Regions from separate parts of the Homo sapiens genome. Here region 2 is linked to region 1. Evidence: fine-mapped expression QTL. A gene starts in region 1. The other region holds a variant in brackets. All regions are shown on one strand. Distances are between the middles of the regions. Region 1 holds the start of IL15 (interleukin 15). Region 2 has its middle 27 kb from the start of LINC02432.

The links.
Region 2: its variant is fine-mapped to the expression of IL15 in whole blood (INTERVAL, PIP 0.93).

Annotation. Positions count from the first base shown.
Region 1 is chr4:141,630,653-141,640,706 of GRCh38, forward strand. IL15 (interleukin 15) reads left to right here and starts at 5,931. Exons shown (of 8, transcript NM_000585.5): 1 at 5,931-6,096. RefSeq lists an enhancer at 5,844-5,933.
Region 2 is chr4:141,300,107-141,310,160 of GRCh38, forward strand. No RefSeq gene overlaps it. Among named protein-coding and RNA genes, the nearest start is that of LINC02432, 27 kb to the right of the region's middle. The variant C/CA (reference allele first, on the strand shown) is at 3,938.

The sequences.
Region 1 (10,054 bases):
AAGGATAGAAAGTTGTAGTTATGATCATGCCCTTTTCATGCAGGCATTTTTAGATATAATCTTTAAGTTGGCTATTATTGGTGACATCCAACATGGTCCCATTCTAACCTATTCACATGTTTTGTGTTCATGAGGTGTAGATAAAACCCATAGTTGTTTAGGAGGCTAATTGAAAAAGAATTTTGCTCCTATGTCTGTCTGATATGGTTTGGAGTTTTGTCCCCTTTGAATCTCATGTTGAAATGTAATCCCCAGTGTTGGAGATGGGTCCTGGTGGGAAGTCATGAAAGTCAAAGGGAAACCTTGGGGTCGTGAGGGTGGTTCCCTTATGAATGGCTTGGTGCCCTCCCCATGGTAATAAGTGAGTTCTCCAGAGTTCACATGAGATCTGGTTGTCTAAAGAGCCTGGCACTTCCTCTTTCCTCTCTCTTGCTCCTGCTCTCACCATGTGACATTCCTGCTCCCACTTCACCTTCTGCCATGAGTAAAAGCTCCCTGAGGCCTCCCCAAGAGCTGAGTAGAGGCCTTTGCCATGCTTCCTGTACAGCCTGCAGAACTATGAGCCAATTAAACTTCTTTTCTTTATAAATTATCCAGTCTTAGGTATTCCTTTATGGAAATGAAAACAGACTAACACACTCTCTGGGAGAGTGTGTGTTTTGGCCCTAGGTAACTTCCGTCTGTGCATTCCATTCTTATTCAAACCTCAGCCTTGGTCCCTGTCACCACAGCATCAGCAGAGAAGGTTGACATGGCAGAGACTGAGAAACATAGGGAGGGAGATAGCTGTGTTTATGTGAAGATTATATAATTCAGGATTTGGGTAGTGAGATCCTTTCACACAATTGTACCCTACACTTTGTGTTAACCTGGTACCCCATTTTTTTACATCTCATTGTGTGTTTTAAATTCATTTAATATACCATGTTATTTGGGCATCTTTATTTGGTCTGCAAGTTTTTCTATTCTGAGACTTTTAGGGTAGTAACTGGAGGCTACCATTTCATCAAGGTAATTTCCCACACAACCATAATAACAAAATCAATGATATTTTAGCCAGTGATCAGAACCCTATATTGATACTTTAACCAGTAATTAGAACTAATTTTAATATATATTATGAAGAAATTTTAGTTGACAATTTAATGAAAAGTGATTGTAGGATTAAACACACATAAACCACAGAATGAAGTTACACAAATATACAAATTATCAAATCATTTCATGATAATGGAAAGAGCTTTTTTACATACATACATATATACACACATACATACACACATATCTATAAGTTTCTAGATTTTGATTCTAGCAAGTATTTAAACTATGAAACAAGAGGGTTTTTTTTAACCAAGATTAATATAACAAATATTTATTGAAGGCCAACTATTTGCTAGCCATAGAGTCAAAACCAATGCCAGTTTAACTTTGTTAACATAAACCTATTATTGGTATTGACTTGATTTACACTTTTTGTAAAGGTTATTATGTGTTGTAAAAAATGCGTGAATTTTAATCATAGAACAAATTCAAGGAATATGTATTTGCCATGTTTTAGCCAATATATGTGAAGAGAAGTAAAATTCCTTTTTACAATTTGTCATTAAAATAAATGCTGACAAGATCCATTACATACATTTATAATATACTCTCAGATTATAAATCTAAATAGGTTTATTAATGTTTTGTAACTAGATTTTAATTGTTAAGGTCAACATTAAATGACTGTTCAGAATAGTACTGGTAGCATATGAACTTGTCACTTTTTTCTACTTAAGCCCCTTCCGCCCTACATTAAGTACCAATGCATTTAAGATAACATGTACTTTTAAATATATTAAAAATTAAGTATGTTATTGTGATGGTTAACATTGAGTGTCAACTTGATTGAATTGAAAGAAGCAAAGTATTACCCTTCGGTGTGTCTGTGAGGGTGTTGACAAAGGAGATTAACATTTGAGTTAGTGAACAGAGAGAGGCAGACCCACCCTTAATGTGTAGGCACCATCTAAATAGCTGCCAGCACAGCTAGAATAAAGTAGGCAGAAAAACAAGCAAGGTTTATACTTGCTCAGTTTTCCAGCCTTCATCTTTCTCCCGTGCTGGATGCTTCTTGCCCTCAAACATCAGACTCGAAGTTCTTCAGCTTTTGGACTCTTGGACTTACATCAGTGGTTTGCCAGTGACTCTCAGGCCTTAGGCCACAGGCTGAAGGCTGCACTGTTGTCTTCCCTACTTCTGAGGTTTTGGGACTTAGACTGATCCACCACAGGCTTCCTTGCTCCTTAGTTTGCAGACGGCCTGTCATGGAATATTACCTTGCGATCATGAGTCAATTCTCCTTAATAAACTCCCTTTCATATATACATATATTTTATTAGTTCTGTCCCCCTAGAGAACCCTGACTAATACAGTTATTATTGTTCTTAATCTCCAGCTTGAAACTAGACATCTTTTCTCCTTGTTTGTCATGGGTACACTCTGACATTTCAGTTCAAAGTCACCCATCTCTATCAGAATCTGCCAGCTCCTAGTTCCTCTGTTTCAAACCTGCAGCAATGTTCTGCCAGCATTTTGTCAGTCACTTTATTCAAATAACTTATGTTAGTAGCAGGGCTGCAATATCTATTGCAGTTTCATTACAGAAACTTAAGATGAGAAAGCAGAAATTCAAGGAAAACTGAAAAGTTTCCTGCCTGGTGGTGACTAAAGTTACCCTGAAGCAAACAAAATTGGACTAAGACATACTGTCTGGGGGTCCACGCTTCTTTCCTTATGAATTCAGTTTTAGAAACAGTGGAGAATGGCTGCCAATTTAAAGGCACCAGAGAGTAGGAATGTGTATTCAAGCCAGACTGTCTGAGTTCAAATCCTTGCTGGGTCAGTCAATTTCCATGTGATCTTAGGCAAGCTGTATAATTCTTTGGGCCTTGGTTTTCCCATTTGTAAAATGGAGATAATAATAGTTTATATCTCATAGCTTTGCTGTGAGGATTTAATAAGTTAACATTTGTGTTTAGCACAGCACTGGAGAAATAGCAGATTGGAGGAACTACAGAAGTCCTAACTAATACTGTTGTGGTTCTGAAAAAGCAGCAACTTGAGGAGCTCTTGAAAACCTAAATAGTATTTAAGGCCAAGAGTATCTGTCTATTGTCAGGATCACCAGAAAAAAATGTGAGAAGCAACTTCGAGGTAATGCTGCATTTCAGCATGCTTTACCCCGAATGGAAATGTAGAGAACCCAGGCAGGCCATGTTTTCCAAAGAGCAGGGGATCAACTTGTTCTTGATGGGAGGTTTAAATCTTAGTAAAACCATAAATAAGGCCACAGTCATGGACTTTGAACACTAAATCAGATGAAATAACTTGTAACTTCTTCCATGTAATCACAAAAGCTAGAAAATAAATTATTAGTAATTTATTTTAAAGATGATTGCCCAATTGACATTGTTTTTGAAAAAAGATATTAAAAATTTATTAAACTATAATTTTATTGTTAATTATTTGAATTCAGGAAGATTATTATGGTCACTTCTATGAGATTTAGTTAATCTCCACTTCTTTCTACCCTGTAATTTTATTAGTTATCTTAAGACAGTTTCAAATTATTTCATCAATCTTCATCTTTGCTTTTAATTTATGCAGCAGAATTTACTTGTTCATTGGTATGAGTAATTTTCAATATTTTGCCAAACAGCCTGTGGCAACTGAAAACACAAGTTGCATACATTAGACTTTTCTTTTTGAGTGCAATGCAACAAAAACAAATTATGTTGCAAACCCAACTTCATTGAACTGCAGGCACTCATAACTAATTAAAAATACTTTTAAAACATCTGTATTTATGAAAACAAATTTGACCAACATATTTGGGAGGCAAATAGTAGAGCAAAGCATATCTTATGACTATAATAATTTTTAGTTGTACTTTACTGTTATTTATGTTTTTTATCTCCCTACTCTGACAAAATGCTTTATATATCATTTAGTCCATCTTGTTCTAGAACCTACTATAGTTGAAACCCAATAAACAGTTGTAGACCAATTTTCTTACTGTTATATACTCAGATTATGCCTTAAGTTCACCCTACAAGTAAACTTTCCGTCAATTTCATAGTGTTGTGAAAACTCTCTAGTAGCTCAGAACGTTCTTGGTGGTCTCAATATATTAAAAGTATGCAGTCAGATACTGATGGCCCTGAGTCCTGCAGACAGCTAACAAAGCTGAAGCCCACAGGCTAGTGAGCACCAGCTGAGAGCACTTTCTATAGAGTTTGTGGGCAGTCCAAGAGAGACAGGATCTGAGATGTGATGATATGTCCTCTGGCAGCAGCAATATCTGATATTGAGCTCTGCTAGGTGGTGCTGAGCGTGGACACCTGCTTCCTTCACCGGCTGCAGAGAACACAGTATCCATTAAAGGAGCTGAAAGAGGTGCTAGAGGAGTTTACATGGCAGGAGTCCAGGAAGCTCTGCAACAGTCCAAAATGAGGTTGGGACACATGATACACTTGTTCATCCCTATTCTCTATCTTCACACATATGCATATCAGTCCTTCCGTGGCTGCTATATTCTTGTGGTGAGATCCAAACCAGCTGCAGTCTTGCTCTCCCAGTGCATGCTCATTCTGCAAATCAGAGCTTCAATGTATTGCTATGAAAAATTCTGACTGGTCTTGAAATCCATTGACACCATCACAAGAAAATTCAACATGACATCGTCATGAACAGAAATGGATGATGGCTTCATATTCTTAAATATAATTTCCAACTATGGTGAAATTTTGAATGGTTGTAAAAACTGTTTTTGCATTTTTATACCTCACTTATTTTGTTAATGGAGACTATCTAGAGTTTGATGTAATTCTCATCAAAAAGTCCATCAGTAATTATTTCAAATATAAAACTGATATCAAAAAATTGAGTTAATGAAAATAAACTCAAATTTTTCATAAAAATATGAAATTATATTATACGGAACTTTATGTACATGGAAAGTGAATAATTTCTATTATTTTTCTATTTGATATTTATCATATTTATGTAATTAAAAACATAATTAAATTTTAAACTAAATTAAACTGCGCTCCAGGAAGACATCATTTTCTCTGAACCATGACTCTGAAAATTTGGAAAGCACCGTACAAGAGGGATTTTCAGTGATTCACAAGAGTGCAAGATTCTGCAAAGTACTTTCAAAACTAAGCGTGAGATCTTTGCTACTGCCTTTATGGCATGCAAATCACTCAGCCTCAACTCAGTTCCTTCCTCCAATGTAAAAATACTACAAGAACAACATCTCACGCTTCCATCAAATGGGACCATGTGTGATATTTTACACTGGACTACACAATAGGCTGGAAAAGTGATCCGCAGAGAGGCTCATTGCTCTAAGTTCACTCCCTGTACCAACTGTCTTGCACAAAGCTGCCACCCGGGTGTCTTCTTCCAACATTTCCCCTAGTTGGACTTCAAAGTTTCCTTCTTGCAGCCTGTGCGGGGACCAAGAGGCCGGTCTAGAGTAGCCGCCCAGCATCCAGATCCGACATCCTTTTCCCTTTCCTCAGGAAGACTTGGATGCGCGCCAGCCCAGCCCGGGTCTCCAGGTTCAGCTGCGGAAGCTTCCCACATGGTGCCCGTCGCTTGGGATGCGGCTATCCTTGTGCCTTCTCTGCAGGTGTCCCGGCAGGTAGAGGAGGAGACCGGTGGCTGGTGTTCCTGCAGGGCGGGGCTGGGGCTCCTCGATGTCCTTGCGCTTGCCCTGCAAGTTCTGCGCCCCAGGCCCCGGCAGGGACGGAAACAGGCCGGGAAGCAGTGACACCTGGGGCAGTCAGTCATCCAGGAGCCGCCGCCACCCGCCCCACCCCCAGTCTCCGCGGGAGGTGTTTGTCTTCGCCTATGCTCCCGGCTCTTTCTCTTTCACTTTTCTTTTCGCCAGGGGTTGGGACTCCGGGTGGCAGGCGCCCGGGGGAATCCCAGCTGACTCGCTCACTGCCTTCGAAGTCCGGCGCCCCCCGGGAGGGAACTGGGTGGCCGCACCCTCCCGGCTGCGGTGGCTGTCGCCCCCCACCCTGCAGCCAGGACTCGATGGAGGTACAGAGCTCGGCTTCTTTGCCTTGGGAGGGGAGTGGTGGTGGTTGAAAGGGCGATGGAATTTTCCCCGAAAGCCTACGCCCAGGGCCCCTCCCAGCTCCAGCGTTACCCTCCGGTCTATCCTACTGGCCGAGCTGCCCCGCCTTCTCATGGGGAAAACTTAGCCGCAACTTCAATTTTTGGTTTTTCCTTTAATGACACTTCTGAGGCTCTCCTAGCCATCCTCCCGCTTCCGGAGGAGCGCAGATCGCAGGTCCCTTTGCCCCTGGCGTGCGACTCCCTACTGCGCTGCGCTCTTACGGCGTTCCAGGCTGCTGGCTAGCGCAAGGCGGGCCGGGCACCCCGCGCTCCGCTGGGAGGGTGAGGGACGCGCGTCTGGCGGCCCCAGCCAAGCTGCGGGTTTCTGAGAAGACGCTGTCCCGCAGCCCTGAGGGCTGAGTTCTGCACCCAGTCAAGCTCAGGAAGGCCAAGAAAAGGTACCGCAGCTCCCCACTTCCTAACTGCTCCCGTCCCAAACTCATTGTGGGCCGGTGCAGATGTCTGTGCGTGCGCGTCTATCCCTACCTTTGCAAAATCAAATTATCGCCCTCTTCTTTGCTTGCACACGTCTTCTGGGAGAGAAATTTGCAGGAATGGTCAGTGCTTGGCAGTCAGGCCTGGGTCTGTATTGGTTCCAACTCTGCGCCAGCCAGTTATCTCTTAGAGAAGCGATAGTGTATCTAGAATGTCGAAGGAACTTGGAAAAAATACGAGCGAATTTCACTGAAATAAAATCATTATTCAAGGTGGCTTTTAAATGAAAATCCAGCCAATTTTTTCAAGTGTTATTAAGACCGCATGTAGCAAGGGTATATAGTTCATTTGACTTTATGTAATTCCATGCATTAAAAACTATGTTGACTTCAAAGTATGTCTAAACCAAACTAATTCTTAAATGATGCTTACAACAGATTCTTAAATAGGATGAGTCAGCAATTTCAAAACTGGAAGTAAAGTGGTGGTCACCAGCTAGTTTCCATTATATATTTTTAAACTACTATCTAATATTATGATACTGGTGGTGGCCAACTAAGTGGACGTCATCCTTATCTTGTCAGTGTGGTGAAAGAGGCCATATTAGCTAGGCTGAATTTTTGCTCAGGTATTACAGAATAAACTGGTGATTATGCATCCTGCCATGTAGAGGTTATAAGGTGAACCATTCTACTGAAAGCATCAAGATACAATACACTTTTGGAAGGCCGAGGCGAGAGGATAGCTTGAGACCAGGAGTTCCAGTTTATAGTGAGCTATATGATCTGCCACTGCACTCCAGCCTGTCAAAAAATAAATAAATGAATAAAAAAGATATAATACAGGTTAAATTTTTAAACTCCTGTTGTTTTCGTGTGAAGTAATGTGGCCAACAGAGCAAGGAAATACATGGGAAGGAACATAAAGACATATAAAGAGAAGAACTGAAAATACAGCAAAAGCCATTTAGATTTAAAAAGTGAAGAAAAAGCTAGTTTTGCTTAAAGTTAACAAGTATCATAGAGATCTTAAGGTTTGTTATGATTGTCTTAGTTTCGGGTCCTTATTCGTGTAAAATTCTCACAGAATTTTAGTCAATCAGAAAAGTCTCTCCTGCAGTATCATCTGCTTTGCAACAGTGACAGAGAAGGGTCAGTTGACCATTGGTCTGGAACTTCTGATAGGCAGGGTGTTCCCATACTTTTGGTTTCACTGTTCCTTGCTGATTTGGAGTGGCAACTCCAGAACCTGATTGGAAGCTATAGTTCTGGTTGGAATTTTCCTGCAGACTACTGGTGATTAAAATGATGCTCTTTTGTTTTAATCCATGAAATTAATGTAGCCAATGTCAACAGCTATATTGCAAGGCACAATGTTTATAAATTTCCTTGGGGGATGGAGAAAACAGTGGTTTAAGGTTTATCGAAATAGATTTTGGAAGTGGAAGGTTTTAAAGCCTACGGGATACTCCATCTCAGATTTGCTGCCTCTGATGAATTTCAGGACAGCTAGAAGAGCAGCCCTGAAATGCTGGGTACATGTGGATTTTTCTCAGGAAAATATCCGTAACTTTGATCAGCTTTTTAAATGGGTCTCTGACCCAAAAGAGTTTTAAATCTTTTGAAAATATAGACTACTGTCCTTTTCCCCTCATCTCTCCTGGAGTTTAATGTTGAGTTCTGCTCATTGTGTTAACTATTTTTCTGAAGGTTAGCTGATCATAATACAGAGTTCTGTCTTCAGACCTATAACTTAAGTTATGAGAAACAGTATGAATAATAACTAACATTGTTGAGTTCTTATTATGTATCAGACATTGTTCTAAGGATGTATTTTTTAAAAACATCGTAATAAACTTATGTGGTAGGCAATATATTTTACAGCTGAGGAAATTATCAAGGTCACAGAGCTAGAAAGTGGTAGAGTTGGAATTCCAACTGAGACAAGTTTAAGACTGGTGGTATTTATGGAGGATGGTATTATTTGCATACAAATATTTCGTACAATTTGACAGTGATAATCCCTACTTATTTTCAGGCAGCGTTGTAATGGTAGAATGCCGGTTTTAAAGTAATGTTTGTATGGTACTTGTGCAATTGACATTATTATATATTTAAAGATTATCTTTATAATCAAATAATATTCATTTGAGTGTCAAATATGTGTTTGGTATATTGGAGAAATTTCCTTTATGGTCCCTGAATGAAAACATTTGTCTAATCTGCATCACTTTCTGCTGAAAGAGCCTGACAAATAGTAGGCAAATGTGGATTGATCTAGATATCTGTCTCTGCCTATCTATGTATCCCTTCTTCCATACAACTAGAAGTCTGGGATTCATGGAGAGGTCAGAGAAGAAGAGTTTCCCATAATATCCCAACTGGAGATGATATAGTTAACTATTTGGGACATCCTCTCTTCAGAAGGCATTATGGTAGAAGGTTTGGCAAGAAGCCACTTCTTTTGCTCGATATTAGCTCTTTGATTTACTTACCCGTTGATTACAGTAACTGCATGAGACTACTGACACTGAACATTGCTTAAATACTTGCTGCTGTCCTATAGGAATGGGTTGGATGGAAAAATTCCATAGAGGAGTTGAAGGAAAAATTGTTATTTTAGTGAGTACTGGAATGCACTAACACCTATTTGATGGTAAATTTCACTAATTAAATACTATCAACTATATGTCTATATGTGTGCATATATGACTATATGTGTATATATACTGTGTATGTGCATATATGTGTGTGTATGTATATATTGTACTGTACTATTTGTTAACAGCTGTGGGCAGACAAGGTTTACTTTTTACTCAGCTTCCAGACTGTATTGAATATATAAACATAAGAAGCTAAGAAATCTTGACAGAAAGCCTGAAGGACAAATTATTGTTATTAACAGTGCCATTCCAGTAGGAACCTAATGTGAATTTGAAAGTTTCAAAGAGGAAGCCTCTGCTATGTTTCAGCCACCATACTGGCACTTCATCTGTATGTCCTCATTGAATTTGAATAACCATTGCATTTTTATCCTGAATTTACAAAGAAAAAAAAAAAAAGACATGCAGAGTTTTGCTTGCATTAGGACACAACTAGGTAAGACAGACACTCCACTGAGATTTATCTTGATTCTAATGTTAATGCTCCTTTTCGGATATCATATGCATTCTCTTCTAAGAAAACTCAGGTGTTCAGTGTACTGACAACTAAAATGCTGCTATCCTTACCTTGAAATAGACCCTGGTCACCATTTGGGGTGATTTAATGCTATTTATGAATTTGCCTATGTCAAAGAATATTGCCCTTTTTTAAACAAACAAAAAAAAAAGTTGTTTAGTGCTGGAGTCAGAAAGAGGAGAAAAAGAGGCTCTTTAATCTCAGTTTAGTTCAATAATATTATTTGTCCACATTTCACATCCAGAGCCAGGGTATTTGTATGCATT
Region 2 (10,054 bases), 330 kb before region 1:
TGTGAATCCTAGGTGATTATGTTAATGCTATGGTATGGACAAGGCAGAGGGGAAAGGAAAATCAAAGCAAGGGAACTGAGTTAGGAAAAGGAAAGAGGTGGGAGGAGGAAAATAACGAGAGACAGTGGAGGAAAGTAGCCAATTACTTATGGTGGCGAATGACAGGATGACACAGAAGGTGGCCAGAAAGAGCCAAATTCTTATCACTACATAGCAAAATTTGAGGAAGCTTCTCATCCCAAATATACCACTTTCCCCAGTTAGTTATGTGGACTCCTCAAATTATGGTTTTTATTCAGGGCAACCTTTAAGACAGTACAGTGTGTTATGGCCCGGCGTGGTGGCTCATGTCTGTAATCCCAGCACTTTGGGAGGCCGAGGCGGGTGGATCACGAGGTCAGGAGATCGAGACCATCATGGCTAACTCGGTGAAACCCCATCTCTACACAAAAAATTAGCTGGGCGTGGTGGCAGGCGCCTGTAGTCCCAGCTACTAGGGAGACTGAGGCAGGAGAATGGTGTGAACCCGGGAGGCGGGGCTTGCAGTGAGCGGAGATTGCACCACTGCACATTAGCCTGGGCGACAGAGTGAAACAATGTCTCAAAAAAAAAAAGAGTATAGTATGATAGTTAGCTTCTCTTACCCACTAGCAATTTCAAGGTGAATATTTTGAGCTGGGTAAAAAATAATCTTTCACCTTCACTTTAATCATTGTTGTAGCAATTCTAGAGCTATCTTGTCCTTATAATTTAGCTAATGAGTTTGTGTAATTGAAAACAGCAGGGTGGAATGGAGGTAGTCAAATTTCATTAGTGACTTTGTTCCTGAGAAATATACATGTGTGTATGCTTGCGTACACACACATACACATACATGCACTTCTCATTTCATATCAGTGGAATGACAAAAAATGAAAGCTACTTTTTTGTCAGTTGTATATTAAACAGTTACAATCATTGCTTTTTAGAATTCCTTGTTTGAAAAGGCAATTAGGTGAAAATTCCTTGGCCAGGTTACAGAGGTAGATGGCAGATGGAAATATTATGGAAGCCACCAGGTAGCTTATGAAACACTAATGTTTTTATAAGTTTGTGAATGCCTTTCCAAACCCTTCAGTAAAATAAAACTTGTGGGAGGCCTTGGTAATAGAGATGGTGACAAGGGCCAAGTTTGGGTTAAGAATGCCTTTGGCTTAAACATAACAATGTAGACATGAACCCAGATTTTGACAGTTACCAGAGAGGCTGTCATTTCAAAATGCCAATAGAGACTGCCAACAGCAATCGCCGCAAGCTTCTTTGATCCAGGCCCTCTCAAATTATCTCTTAGTAATGTGCTGTCATGTGGAACAGCTGATGGAAACACTGAGCCCCAGTAAAACAATCAGGGAAGATTTCATACCACCATATCTCTGACTGGAGTTTTCTAATTCTTACAATTTTTTTTCTCTCATCAGTTTCTTGTTGTGTATGGCTCCATCTGGATGGAATCTATCTCCAAGTTTCCATATTATTGATCTATTAATTTCTAGCTTTTAGTCAACAATCTATGCCACCGTCCTCCTTGAGAAATTGCAAGTATGTGCTTTTTGTATTGGTAGTCTGCATGAGAAGTATAGAGAATTTTAGTCACTATTCTTTCACTACTGATCATTTCTATGGCACTTATCTCCTTGTGATTTCTCTGCTAGGTTTCTCCTGGTAGAGAAATCTAGCAGGAGAAATCTAGCAGGACTGATTGACACAAGATTGTCTGCAGCATTTATTGATGTTTACAGAGACTTTGACTTTGTGGATTGTATACACAAGGTCTAAGTCTCATGAACTTCTAAACTTCTAATTGACACTGAGTTACTAATGCTTCTACATAACAGGATCTTTTTTTTTTTATGAGACAGGGTCTCACTACATTGCCCAAGCTGGAGTGCAGTGCTGTGATCACAGCTCACTGTAGCCTTGACCTCCCTAGGTGTTCAGGTGATCCTCCCACCTCAACCTCCCAAGTAGGTGGGACTACAGGTGTGTGCCACCAGGCCTGGTTAATTTTTGTATTTTTTGTAGAGATGGAGTTTTGCCATGTTATCCAAGCTAGTCTCAATCTCCTGGGCTTAAGCAATTCTCCTGCCTCACCTTCCCAAAGTGCTGGGATTACAGGCATGAGCCATCACACCTGCTCCAGAACTGCATCTTAATAGCATAGACTGAACCTCTCATGAATCGTCAGAGACAGACTCGGTACCTTTTTCTTCCAAATTTGATTCTAAACAGCTTCATACTCCTTTGGAATCAAAACAATGCTTTACAGTATTTTATTACTGGTAAGTAAAATTATATAAAATAAGAGATGTAAGCCAATAAGTCTCCATTATAAAGAACTAAGTGCAAATTAGATCTTCATTAAAAATTCCTGATTTTTTCTCACTTCTTAACAAATGAATCTTCCTGGATATTTTTCCTTTTTTTTTTTTTTTTGAGACACAGTTTCACTCTGTCACCCAGGCTGGAGTGCAGTGGTGTGATCTCAGCTCACTCCAGGGTTCAGGTGATTCTCGTGCCTCAGCGTCTCTAGTAGCTGGGATTACAGGCGCCCCCCCACCATGCCTGGCTAATTTTTGAATTTTTGATAGAGACAGGTTTTCTCCATGCTGGCCAGGCTGGGCGTGAACTCCTGACTTCAAGTGATCTGCCTACCTAGGCCTCCCAAAGTGCTGGGATTATAGGCAGGAGCCACTGTGCCCAGCCCCTGGATATTTTTCTATAATTTACCTTGTAGATAGATATTTACTCAAAATAAATGCCTGTGGAATCAGAAGAACCACACTTTTAATCCTTAATTGAAATAAAAGTACATAATCTTTCAAAATAAATATTATAATGCAAATACTGACAATTAAGAAAGAAAAAAACCTTCTTTTAGTTTTAAAGCAGTATGTTTGGTATGGCACTCTAAATCCTCAAGTACCACAAGGGACAAGTAATTTCCCAAAAAGCTTTACAACCTCCCAAACCAGTTTTGATCCATGCAGGGAACTGAAGGCCAGAACATTAGCTTGGCTTCCTCCATGAGCTCAGTTGTATCCCAGGCATGGGAAACAGAGAAAGTATAAAACACAATCTCAGTCCCAAAGGACTTTCCAACTTTAGTGAGACGGCAAGATCAACTGCCACATAAAAACTGTATATAACACAGGCCCCTTTTAGAAAAATGAATTTAAAAACTACAAATACAAAATTGGGGACAAGAGTAAATACTCACCATCAGAAGAAAAATTCTGATAAATTATTGGAAGCTGGGAGATTTGGGTGCCTTGTTTCTAGATATTTCTGCACAATGTACTAGAATTGCTTACATAGAAGTGTGTCCTGAGTGCAGCTGGGCTTCCCCTCCTCATCTGGAACATTCCATGACAGAAATTCCCAGCCCTCACAGGAGTCTACGCAAGCGAGAAGCTCTGGGATTTTGGCTTCACTAGCTTCCCAAGGCACCTGCCTCTTCATATACCTTCGTAATAGTCATCAAGAGAACTGTAAAAAACCAGCAGCATCAAGAAACCTGTTAAACATTAAAAAAAATCATCATATTTGAAATTCTTTCTGAATTTATCTATTTTAAACCTGGAGAGTGAGGATGTATAATTATCTTAGTCTTTTTACGCTGCTATGGCAAAATATCACAGTCTGGATAATTTATAAACAGTAGAAATCTATCTCTCATGGTTCTGGAGGCTTAGAATTCCATGATCGAGGCACTTGCAGAATTGATGTCCGGCGAGGGCTGTTCTCTGCTTCCAAGATGGCGCCTTGTTGCTGCATCCTCCAGAGGGGAGGAATACTGTTGCCTCACAAGGTGGAGAAGGGATAGAAGGTCAAGAGAGCACTCCCTTCAACCCTGAGCCTTTTCTTTTCTTTTCTTTCTTTTTTTTTTTTTTTTTCGAGA[C/CA]AGAGTTCTTGTTGCCCAAGCTGGAATGCGACGGTGTGATATCGGCTCACTGCAATCTCTGTCTTCTGGGTTCCAGAGATTCTCCTGCCTCAGCCTCCCAAGTAGCTGGGATTACAGGCGCACACCACCACGTCTGGCTAATTTTTTGTATTTTTAGTAGAAAAGGGATTTCACCATGTTAGCCAGGTTGGTCTCAAAACTGCTGACCTCAGGTGATCCTCCCGCCTTGGCCCCCCAAACTGCTGGGATTACAGGCGTGAGCCACCGCGCCTGGCCAACCCTGAGCCTTTTCACAAGGGTGCCAACCTCATTCATGAGGGCAGAGTCCCCTAATCACCTCTCAAAGGTAACACCTCTTACTATTGTTACATTAGGGATTAAGTTTCAACATAAAATTTGGAGGGGACACAATCATTCAAACTACAGCAATAATGAAAAAGAGGCTCGACAATTTTTCTTCTTTTTAATATGTGTCACTTGAGTTTCCAGCACAACAAGATGACTCAGAACAGGAATAGGGTTATGTGAATGTCAATTTCTGTAGCCCAGCGTGAGTACCTCCTTTTTAAAATGAAAATCCCACTGGGGAATCTAGAAATGTAGCAGATCAGACAAATTATGCCTTTCTTATTTTTATATAAAGTTGGATTCTACAAGTAGACTCCAAAAGATTCTACCTATATTTTATTTCCCAAAGACTCTACATGTGAAATTCCTACATTTATTCATTCATCAGATATTTATTGAGCACCTTTTACATGGCACACACCACTTTACCTGCTGAGACTGAGTCATGCATAAAATGGATAAAGTCACCTCTCACAAAGATACAATTAAAAATATCGTGCGTCATGTGGCAAGTGCCTAAAAGAAAAATAAGAGGACAAAGGATAATGGACTAGGGGACTAGGAGGGCCTCTCTTCAGGGTGCCAATGAGAAGAAAGCCCAAGCAGGAGTGGGAGAGCATTCCAGTCAAAGGGATCAGAAAGTGCAAAGTCCCTGAGTCTGGGGCACACTTAGTATGTTGAAGTAATGCAGGAAGATCACTGTGGCTGGAGTAGAGAAGGAAAAGGGAAGAGGCAATGAGGTTAGGAAAGTAGCTAGAGATAAGATTATGCAGGGCCTTGTAAATAACAATTAGGAATCCGTAAGAGTAACATGGTCTGACTTGGGCTTTGAGATGGCCACTCTGACTGTTGTGTGAAGAGCAAGAGTAAGGAACCAGAGGCCAGTGAGGAGGCCATCACAAGGGCCAGGCAAGAGGCAGTGGGGCATGGACTAGTGATCTGGTAACAGGGATGTTAAGAATTGGTTGAATTCTGTGTTTTCTAACATAGTGTCTGGATCCCAGCTCCAAAGGGACTGACTGACAAATTTTCAAGGAGGTTAATTAAGGAACCCTACTGTTTACTACACTAATAGTTATCCAAGTACAGGGGCCAGCTGCATCAGAAGCTCCCACGGCTTTTGTTAAAAAAAAAAAAAAAAAGATTCCAGGGCCTTGTCACAGACCTACATAGAATCTCTGGCAAAGGAGGCCCAGGAATATGAGGTTTTAACAAACTCCTTGTGTGGTTCTTAATATGGGATAAATTTTGATCCTGGTCCTTATGGAAGAGAGTGCTGAGCTCTTGCAAAGGTTTGTGTCTTGTTAGACATTTCAAGTCCATACTTTAAATATCTCCAGGCTAGAACTGAGACTATATTGTGAATTTAACAGTGAGAATTACAAAAGCTCACTGTTTTTGCCTGAACTCTCAATATGAGATGTCTCCATCAAGCTGTCAGATTTTAGCCTTATCAGGGGTTTCATGAAACTTTTTGTCATTTTACATTGATTTTCACATTCCTGAACCTTCTGAGTAAACTTGTCTTTTAGCTTTAGAGATTATAAATACTAATAATTGAACCTAGAATATTTTAAAGCTTCTATCTGTATGAGCCAAAAGTGTGAAGTGTGCTTAAGAAAGGACAGAGGGAGTTTGGCAACTCTTTCTAAAGCTATTTTTGCTTTTTTATACATTAATAAGTGATATGCTCTCTCTTTACAAACTATTAGTGAAGTAAAATAGATTTCTCTGGCTTCCAAAACAGAGAAAATGATACTTTGAGATGAGGCAGTTAGAAATGAGGCATGACACAATAGCTAATAGATTTTGTTTTCTGTCTTGCTTTCTTTCCCTCTCCTACCTTTCTATATTGCTTCATACTGAACTATCTTTAGATATAAGAGTGTATACTAAACTCTGTTTACTCTAAAATCCTTTACCATTGTATACACTTGCATTATAGTAAGAGTATGAGCATCATTTTGTATTCTATGTTTTTCCAGTATCATATATACAGTAAATCTATTATGTCAGTCCCTGAAATTACCATTTTTTGTTTGTTTTGAGATAGGGTATCACTCTGCCGCCCAGGCTGGAGTGCATTTGTGCTATCTAGGTTCACTGCAGCCCAACCTCCTGGGCTTAAGCAATCATCCCACCTCAGCTTCCTGAGTAGCTGGGACCACAGGCGTGCATCGCCACACGTGGCCAATTTTTGTATTTTTTGTAGAGACGAGGTTTTGCCATGTTGCTCAGGCTGGTTTCAAACTCCTGAGCTCAAGCAGCCCACGTGCCTCGGCTTCCCAAAGTGCTGGGATTACAGGCATGAGCCACTATGCCTGGCCTGAAATTACAATTCATAATGGCTTTATAGTAAAGCATTGTAATACTATATTGTACTTCATATAACAATTTATTTACTGCTTGCCATTTGTACTTGAGTTTTTCCAGTTTTTCAGTATATAATAATGAAATATGACATGGCTCTAAGCATCTTTATGTAAATTACTTCATTGTCTTTGTGTCTATTTTTTTCATGAAATATTCCCAAATAAATAATTATTGAACTAAAATGTAATAAAGGATATTTTTAAAATGGTAACCAGCTGCCAGACTGTTTCTCAGAAAGCTTGAACTGATATTCCATACCATGGATAATATTTTATCATAGCAATACAAAGTTTAAGCACTTAAATTTTTTTTTTTTTTGGCCAGTTTGATAGATGTAACTTACTCTATTATTTAAATCTTTTCATCTTCTCTGCGGTTAAAATAGAATGCTTGTAAAATTGGGACATGAATTTAGGGCAGAATCAGAGTGACAGCTTTCCGACAGATGACCTCTCCCTCATCAGTGTTATTTTCCAGTTTCTTTGGCTCATTTTGCAGTGAACAACCTAACAGGGTGAAAGTTCCAGATACTCTGACAAGGTGATGGTTTTGAAGAGAAGTTCTGCTGCTGGGCAGAAGAGGGCACTGTTTGTTTGTACTGAGGCAGAACAAACCCTGACCTGTTTAGAGAGAGCAATCACTGTCAGAGCCAGCTCTTCACTTCACACTTGTGGTCCTGTGACCACTGTGGTGGCGACCGCAGCTCCTTCCATGCATGACAAGTCCTGTTAAGCATTGAATTTGTTATTATGCACTGAGGTCTGTGAAGTTCCTGCCTCCTAGAAGACCAATGGAATCATTTACACTGCTGTCACCGAGGAGTTAGCACCCAGGCAGTTGCCTACCACAAGAAGGAGGGCTGGTTTGCTCCAGGAGACACCAGCCGGTCCGGACACCTGCAAGACTCTGGGGAACCACAAGGTTAATTAGAATTTGATGAGCAGTGAAGGTCAGGAATTTAGAAAGGCTGGAATAGCAACCAGACTAGGATTGTAAGAACATTTTTGTTAAAATTAAGAAGTAATACCCAAGATTTTTAGGCCAACCACATTTCTGTATTTCTTGTTTTTTTTGTTGTTGTTTATTTTTTCTAGTTAAAAAAAGTCACATAGGAAATGTACAAATGCATTATTATTACAAAAGATTAAATCACACTATGAAGTGCTGAGCAATCTGTATTCTCTCTTTGGCCTCTTCATTCCACTCACACTCCCTTTCTCAAAGGCCACTGCTGTTAATAGTTTGATGACTTTGTTGTGGGCCTTTACAGACACAGGTGCATACACTGTACACATATATCTTTTTTTCTCTCCAAGAGTGGGATCTTGCCATACATATTATCCTGAAACTAGTTTTTTCCCCCACTTAACCATAAATCGTGTCACTGTTTCCATGAGTTCAAATTGGTCTTCTTTTGCATAACTATCTGTAATATGGATTATCATGAATTAATTAACCATTATACTGATGAAACATTAAGGTTTTCAATTTTCACTATTACAAATAATGCAAAGTGAATGTTCTTGTGTTTGTAACTCTGTGCACAGACTTCAGTGTTTCTGTAGGATGGATGCCAGATGTAAAATTGCAAGGTCAAATTTTATGAGCACTTAAAGTTTTAATAGATGTGGTCAAATTGCCCTCCAAAAAGGGAGAAGGTAACTTCTATTTATTTATTTTTACTATACTTTAAGTTCTAGAGTACATGTGCCAACGTGCAGGTTTGTTACATATGTATACATGCGCCATGTTGGTGTGCTGCACCCATTAACTCGTCATTTACATTAGGTATATCTCCTAATGCTATCCCTGCCCCCTCCCCCAACCCCACGACAGGCCCTGGTGTGTGATGTTCCCCACCCTGTGTCCAAGTGGGGAGAAGGTAACTTCTTAAAGTTATTGATATGTGCAGTCACGAGAGTGTTTGATGGTGCTAAACAGAAGAAACTCTTATGTTGTAGGCCAGAACCTTCAGTGGGCTGATTATATTTGTACAGTTGCCTTTGCTTCACTCCAGTGAAACCATTATGGACTCTTTCCTAAATGAGAATCTTGGGGTTAGTATAAAGACCTTCTAAACTGCAATGGGCCTCTGTCATATTTTTCTCAGGTTTGGGCAGAGGGTTAGGATAAAGGAAGGAGCAAAGTGTCTTCTTGACCTGCAGAAGAGGTTCGGGGGAAATGCCTTACACATCAGCAGGGGCCATGAGAGCAGGTCTTATCTGTGATGCCTCATATCTGATTCTGCTCTTGTCTGCCTACTGTCCACACTATTCTTCGAATCATAATTAGATCACATCGCATTCTGCAGAAAGCCTTCTAGTGGGCACCCCTGCAGGTACCTTGGCTTATTAGGCCCCTTTACACTCTGACCTCTTCCCCTGAGACATCATATCCAACTAGGCTGCCTTGTTCTTCCTGCCCCAACCCTCACCTCTCAGCCCACTGGCTTCATTTTGGCTCTAAACACACCAACTGAGAAAGTGAAGGGACTTCAAGTAGATGTCCCGGAGGGCTCTGAAATGTGCCCTCTACTTTGGGAAGCCTGATAAATCTAACAGAATGCACTGAATCTGATTGGGGCCAGGAACTGGGAAGAACAATGAAAGGGCTAAGTGTTCCTGAGGTAGAGCCCTGAGAGCATGGTCTAAGGGCTGCGCCAGTGTTTCCCTGGACCAGATGTGTGCCGGGGGAAGAGATTTTACCTGGGGACCAACAGGGAGGAAAATAGGCCACAGAAAAAAGAGGCCAGTAGGGACTGCTAGTATGGACATGCAAAGTAGCCAGGAAAGGAGTTGCAACCAAGGAAACTGCAGGTGAAGGAAGTCCCAACAAGGAAATCTCTGAAGAGACCTTGAAAGAGCCTCATGTAGGAAAGGGATAGCTTAACATCTGTCTACTCAGCCACGACTTCAGCTTTAACCATCTGGTAGGCCCCCAAAGCCCAAAGAAACTTCCCAGCCAAGTAACTTTGCTAACTCTTTCTCTTTATGCACACCTCTTTATCTCCCAGCCCAGCCTTCACAAAGCAGAATACTGATTCTGTATTGTGGGAGCAGATGAGCAGAGAGAGCAGACAGCAGGAGGACTGGGCTCACTGGCCACCCCTCCACCACCCGAGCCATGTGAGCTGGAGAGGACATTAAAAGCAAAAATAAATAGAGAAATCTAGAGGCTGGGTTTCTCCAAGAGACTGGACTGTCAAACTTCCTCATTGAGACTGTGCTTTACACAGGTGAGCAGAAGGTTGCATCCTCTGAGAGTTGCTGGGAAGTTAGGGACTTGCCCAAGCCTTGGTTCAGTTGCAGAGTACTCCCACTCCATCGTGTGCGAAGCACACTTCTCAATCTTGGCTGTGTATTAATGTCACCTGGGAAACTTTCAAAAATCCCAATG